2 separate regions of the Homo sapiens genome follow, and region 1 is linked to region 2. Evidence: fine-mapped expression QTL. A gene starts in region 2. The other region holds a variant in brackets. All regions are shown on one strand. Distances are from middle to middle. Region 1 overlaps SLC41A3 (solute carrier family 41 member 3). Region 2 holds the start of SLC41A3 (solute carrier family 41 member 3).

Evidence for each region. PIP is the estimated chance that this variant, and not a neighbour inherited with it, causes the effect.
Region 1: its variant is fine-mapped to the expression of SLC41A3 in whole blood (TOPMed, PIP 0.97).

The regions. Positions count from the first base shown.
Region 1 is chr3:126,010,578-126,013,488 of GRCh38, forward strand. It overlaps SLC41A3 (solute carrier family 41 member 3), which reads right to left. Exons shown (of 11, transcript NM_017836.4): 9 at 2,038-2,172. Among named protein-coding and RNA genes, the nearest start is that of ROPN1B, 43 kb to the left of the region's middle. The variant G/GT (reference allele first, on the strand shown) is at 1,326.
Region 2 is chr3:126,082,726-126,085,636 of GRCh38, forward strand. It overlaps SLC41A3 (solute carrier family 41 member 3), which reads right to left and starts at 1,399. Exons shown (of 11, transcript NM_017836.4): 1 at 1,368-1,399. ALDH1L1-AS1 (ALDH1L1 antisense RNA 1) reads left to right here and starts at 1,490. Exons shown (of 8, transcript NR_190231.1): 1 at 1,490-1,727. RefSeq lists silencers at 1,047-1,156, 1,197-1,746.

The DNA of each region.
Region 1 (2,911 bases), 72 kb before region 2:
CTATTCCAACAAACACCACAGGAAAAACTGCAGCCCCGACCTCATCAGGAAAGGCCTGGTGGGACCACCATCATCTCCTGTGGCTGGCAGGGTGAGATTCAGAACTTTCATCTCTACCCAGTGCTAATGGGGCCCCCACCTTGTCAGTGAAGCCATGTGGGGAGCAACAACAAGGCATCTTTCCCTGTCCCAGCCAAGGTGGTCTCAGAGGAGGCCTAGTGAGGAACCTAGATTGCACTGTGCCCAGCAATAACAAGGTGCTCCTCTTCTCCCAGGATAGCAATAGAGGCTGAATGGTGAACCCAGTCTTCCATCCCCACCTGGGCAGCAGTCCATCCCTTCTCCCCAGTGGTGCAGTGTCAAAGGAAGCCAGCTAAGTAGAGATTCAAACATGATCCAAAGTCTTGTCCATAATACCCAAAATGTCTGGATTCAAATGAAAATCACTCATCTTACCAAGAGCAAGAAAAATCTCAACCTGGATGAGAAAAGACAACCAACAGACAGCAGAGTGAGACGACACAGACGTCAGCATCACCTGAAAGCCGTTCTAATGAAGCCACTACAACAATCCTTCATCATGCAATCACAAACCCACCTGAAACAAACAAAAAAATAGAAAGTATAAGCAAAGAAATAGAAAGTCTCAGAAAAGAAAAAGAAGATAGAAAGAAAGAAGAACCAAATGGAAATGTTAAAACTAAACACATACAATACCCCCAAAAGTCCCAGACAACTCAGTGAATAGGCTCAATAGCAGAATGGAGAGGGCAGGGGAAAAAAGATCAGTCAACTTGGAGAAAAAAGTGATAGAAATGAGCCAATCTAAACAAGGAGAGTAATAGACTTTGCAAAAACCAAACAGAGTCTCAGGGACTTGTGGGGCTGTAACAGAGGATCTAACATTCATGTCATTAGAATATCAAAAAGAAGGAGAGTGCAGCTGAAAAAGTGATGGCTTAAATTTTCCGATTTGACAAAAGATATAAATCCATGTGTTCAAGGAGCCTAACAAACCCCAAATAGGATAAACCCCAAAAAGTCCATACCAATACATATCATAATCCAACTCCTAGAAACTAAAGACAAGGTCTTGAAATATGCAAGAGAGAAATGGCACCATACCTATACAGCAAAATAAATTGAAATGGCAGATTTCTCATCATAAGTCATGGAATCAGAAGGAAGTGGCACATTTTTCAAGTGTTTGAAAACAACTATTGACACCGAATTTTACAACCAGTGAAAATATCCTTCAGAAATGTGCCAACAGCCAACCCAAAAGAAGGCTAAAGGTAGTTCTTAGAAAGGAAATCCAAAACAAT[G/GT]TAACAGGAAAGAAGATCTGATTTTTCAAAGCCAACAAAAAGACACAACATCTCCAAAAGCTTCCAGTGGTTCTGAGTAGAATCCAGGTTCCTTCCTCAACTCCAAGGCTCTGTCGGATCACCTCCTTCCGGCCTCTCTGGCCTCAGCCTCCTTCATCCCCTCCTGTCCATTCAGCTCAGGCCACATTGGCCTTTCAGTTCTTCAGACTTGCCACACTCCTTCCTGCCTCTGGGCCTTTGCTAGACTGCACCCACTGCCCTGAAAGCCCCTTCTTCTCTTGCCCTCCTCCTCCCAACAACACCCACTTGTCCTCAGGGAGGAGCTTCCTTATCCCAAGTGTATTTCCTCTAATTCTTTTTCACTGCACTCTGCACTTTTGCTGCTCGGTACCCAACATAATTTTTAATTACGAGCCCACTTGTGTTTATCTGCCCTTCTATACTGTGTACTTCAAGGGCAAGAAATCAGCTCTCCCTGTTTCACCACTAACCTAACACCTAGTGCCCAGTGGACATTCAATAAATAATTGAATGAAGGAATGAAGGAAAGGCAGGGCCGGGGAGTCTCATTTCTGGGGCCCTGAAGGTGATGTGTGCCGAGATCAGCCCTGGCTTCAGGCATCCATTGCTACAAACACCAGATTCCAATGACACCGATGTTTTCTTGTTTAAAGAAATGGCTATCATGGCCTCTGAAAGACATGACACCCACCTGACGTGCAGAAAGTAGAACACGGGTTGGGCCAGAATTTCTTCATCTGGAGGGGCAGGACGCCAGGTGCACTCCACATGTGCAGGTAGGTTGAGATTCGGCTGGTCTGAATGGCCACCAGATTGCCACCAACACCTACGAGGAGAAAAGGAATCTGTTTTCCCTTTCTTTACGCCAGTCTCTAAGTTGTATCCCTTATTTTAAGTTCCCTTCCTCCAGGAAGTCTTCTTTGGTTAATTCAGTATTTCATTATCTTTTCCTTTCCTCCCACTTGACCACAGATCTTGTTTGGCAGCAAGTCAGGGTGGCCCAGAGCTTGTGAGTGAGGTATCCAGGGAGTAACTGCATCACCTTGACTGCTGGCATCTCTTAAGGTGAGGGGAGTGCGGCTGTAAAGTAGGTTCTCAATAAGTATTTGTTGGCTGGAGCGAGGATGGGAGGGAGGGGATCCAGGGACAAAGTAAGGATGAGGGGAGAGTGGATAGAAAGGTCTGAGAATAGTGTGATAAGGCAGTCTGGATAAGTCAGACCTCAAGGCCACAGGCATTGACAGGAAACAGACTACAGCCTGGAATATCTGAGAAAATGAAAGTGATTTTTTTTTTTTCACTCAAGGTGGGAAGGAGAGAGGAGGAATGAAGACAGTGGATAAGAATGAGAGGGGGCCAGGCATGGTGGCTCATGCCTGTAATCCTAGCACTTTTGGAGGCTGAGGTGGGTGGATCATTTGAGGTCTGGAGTTCGAGACCAGCCTGACCAACATGGTGAAACTCTGTCTCTACTAAAAATACAAAAAAAATTAGCTGGGCATGGTGGTGCACACCTGTAATCCCAGCTACTCAGGAGGCTGAGGCAGGAGAATCACTTGAACCCA
Region 2 (2,911 bases):
CCAGTGCGAACACATCCTGCCCGGGGACCTGGACCCAGCAGCTCACACAGACCAGGGCTCGCCCAAAGGCAGGCAGGCAGGGCCACTGCTGACCACGCACCTGGCTGGTCGTGATTCTGGAACTAATGGTTTCTGCCTGGCAGGGAGGCCGCCAGGACCTCTGGGCTTCACCCCTCCCCACCTTCACAGGGGACCTCGCCTCAGTGGGAATGTTCTGGAGCCGGAACCCAAGGTTGGAATCCCAGCTCCTCCCCTTTCTAGGTCTGTGACCTTGGAAAAATTAAACTTTCTGTACCTCTGTTGCCTAATCTGTGAAATGGGGTAATACTACCTACTGTGTAGGGCTGTGAAGATTAAATGGAGTCATGCATTATCATCACAGGGCACCTGGCCCATCCTCAACCCCAGTTCAGACTCCTCAAAGCCCTAAGGTTTCAGATCAATGGTCAGAACCACGAGGAGGACCTGCTAAAGACAAGTATGGGGACCCACCCCCAAGGTTTAGGATTTAGAAGGTCAGGGTGGGGCTGGGGAACCCGCATTTCTAGCAGATCTCAGGAAAGGCAGTGCTGCTGGTCCTGGGACCACAGTTTGAAAACCACTGGTGTAAAAAAAGCCTTCTAAAAAAAAGTGGGATTTGATCACTAAAGTCATATGGAAAAAACTGGAAGAAAGAGGAAAAAATAAACAAATAAATAACGGGATTTTAAAGAGACCTATCCCACCGGCTCTCCTGGATGGAGAGAGTGTGGGACTCTGAGACAGACTCCCGGCTGGGCACCCCCAGGAGGTTTTCTTCACCAGAGGTTTGCACCGAGCCCACCCAGGACAGTGGGCTGAGCCTGTGGTAGAGGCTGGCGGGAGGTCTGGCTGAGGCAGCGAGGGGTCCCTGCGCGCGGGCGCTGCAGGAGTCACGCGTGTGACATCCAACCAGGAGCCGTGCCCTGAGCAGGCCAGGAAGGAGGAGACAGGGCCGCTGAATGCACACCGCAGCGGTGTGGGGAGCGGCCTCAGACACCTAAGGGTAGGACCGGCCGGCTCCCCCGCGACCCCCAGCGCCTGGGTTCTCTCCCGGCCTCCCCGAGGCGTGGCCTACCCCAGGCATGGCCCCACCCCGCCCCAGGCCGCCCCTCCGACCCCTCGTGTTTACCTCATCTCCCGCGCGCCTTTCCCCCACCGAGTCCCCCAAATCCCGGTCCCCACCTGACTCCCCCTCCCGCCGAGCCCCCAGGGCCCGGCGCCCGGCTCACTCGCCTCCCGCGCACCCACTCCCGGGCGCCCTCTCCCGCGCGCCTCCCCGACCCCCCTTGGGCCCCAGCTGACCCCACCTTCCGCCCCAACCCCGCCCGGAACAGGGCCGCGCTTACCGGGTCCCCTCCCAGGCGGCGGCGGGAAAGAGGCGGGCGGAGGACGCAGGGGCGGGCCTGCGGCTCAGGCAGGAAGCGGGAAGGCCGGGCCTCCCTGGCCCCGCCCCGGCCGGGCGGCCGGACCTCGGACGACTTGGCGCTCCGGGACAGCAGCAGACGCCCAAGCTCCGGCAGCGCAGAGCCCCGCCGGGGGCCCGGGGGGCTGGGAGCCGGGGATCGCGGGGACGGAAGTGGGGGACCGAGTCTCGCGAGCCCGGGCCCTCCTCGCAGCTGGGGCCCCACTGGCGCCCCCGCGGGAGCGCTACGGGAGAGGCGCCTATGCGGCTGCAGGTTTTATTATGGAGCTGTCAAGGTAGAAAGGTACGGAGAACGGGAACCCACCGACAGCCAACTTCCCTTGGGACCCGCCTTTTGCTTTAAAAACAACAACGACAAGTCTGTGCTTCACCCCACACATGCCTTTCGTTTTCCCTTTTTTCCCAGAGTAATTTTAAAGCATCCCAGTGGATAAATTCTCCTTTAAATACTCGAGTATGTTTAATCAGTAAGGCCTATTTTTTTAAACATTCTCATAGTATTACGGTCACACCTAACGAAATTGGCAATTCCCAGTCCGGGCCTGAGGGAGGCCTGATGGTTCACAAGACTTGGTAAAATATATCATTATATTTTAAACCAAAAAATAAATGATAAGGCACCTCCCCGTTCCCAACCACCAAATCATCCGAATGGACTTCTTCCTCAGCCAGGACTTTTAGAATTTAACCTGAAAAACTGGTTCAGGCCATAAGGGGAAGTGGAGGCCGAACATGCCTCATTATCCCTCTCCTGCATTAACATCAACACAGACTTTAAGTCTGATAAGAAACATTTTACAGCCTCTTCTCTCTGAAGCCTGCTACCCTATCCGAATACTTCATCTGCGTGATAAAACACATTGGTCTCCACAACCTCTTAACCCAGACATTCCTTTCTTTAATCCCAGGTCTTTGGACAAACTCAACCAATTGTCAACCAGAAAATGTTTAAGTTGACCTATACCCTAGAACCACCCTCCCCCTCTTTGAGTTTTCCTGCCTTTCTGGATCAAACAAATTTATTTCTTAAATGAACTTAACTTGAAGTCTCATGCCTCCTCAGAATGTATTAAACCAAGCTGCACCCCGACCTCCTTGGGCACATGTTCTCAAGACCTCCTGAAGGCTGTGTCACTGGCTGTGGTCACTCATATTTGGCTCACAATAAATCTCTTCAAATATTTTACAGAGTTTGACTCTTCCACAATAATTTGGCACCCAGCGTGGGGCCTCAGAGAAGACTCAGGACCCCAAAGGAGTTGCCTGAACTCGGAGCGAAGATACCAGTGGGGCCCATTGAAGCCTCCCAGACTTCTAGCTTCTCCCCCGATGGAACTGGTTAAGTTCTCCTGAGCCCCAGATCGCCCTTTGGTTGACAGTCCTTCGTTTAGTGTGAGCTGGTTTTTCTCCTAGGAAGTTGTTGTTTAAGGATTCTAATTCTAGTTCAGAGACACATTCTAAAGGGTT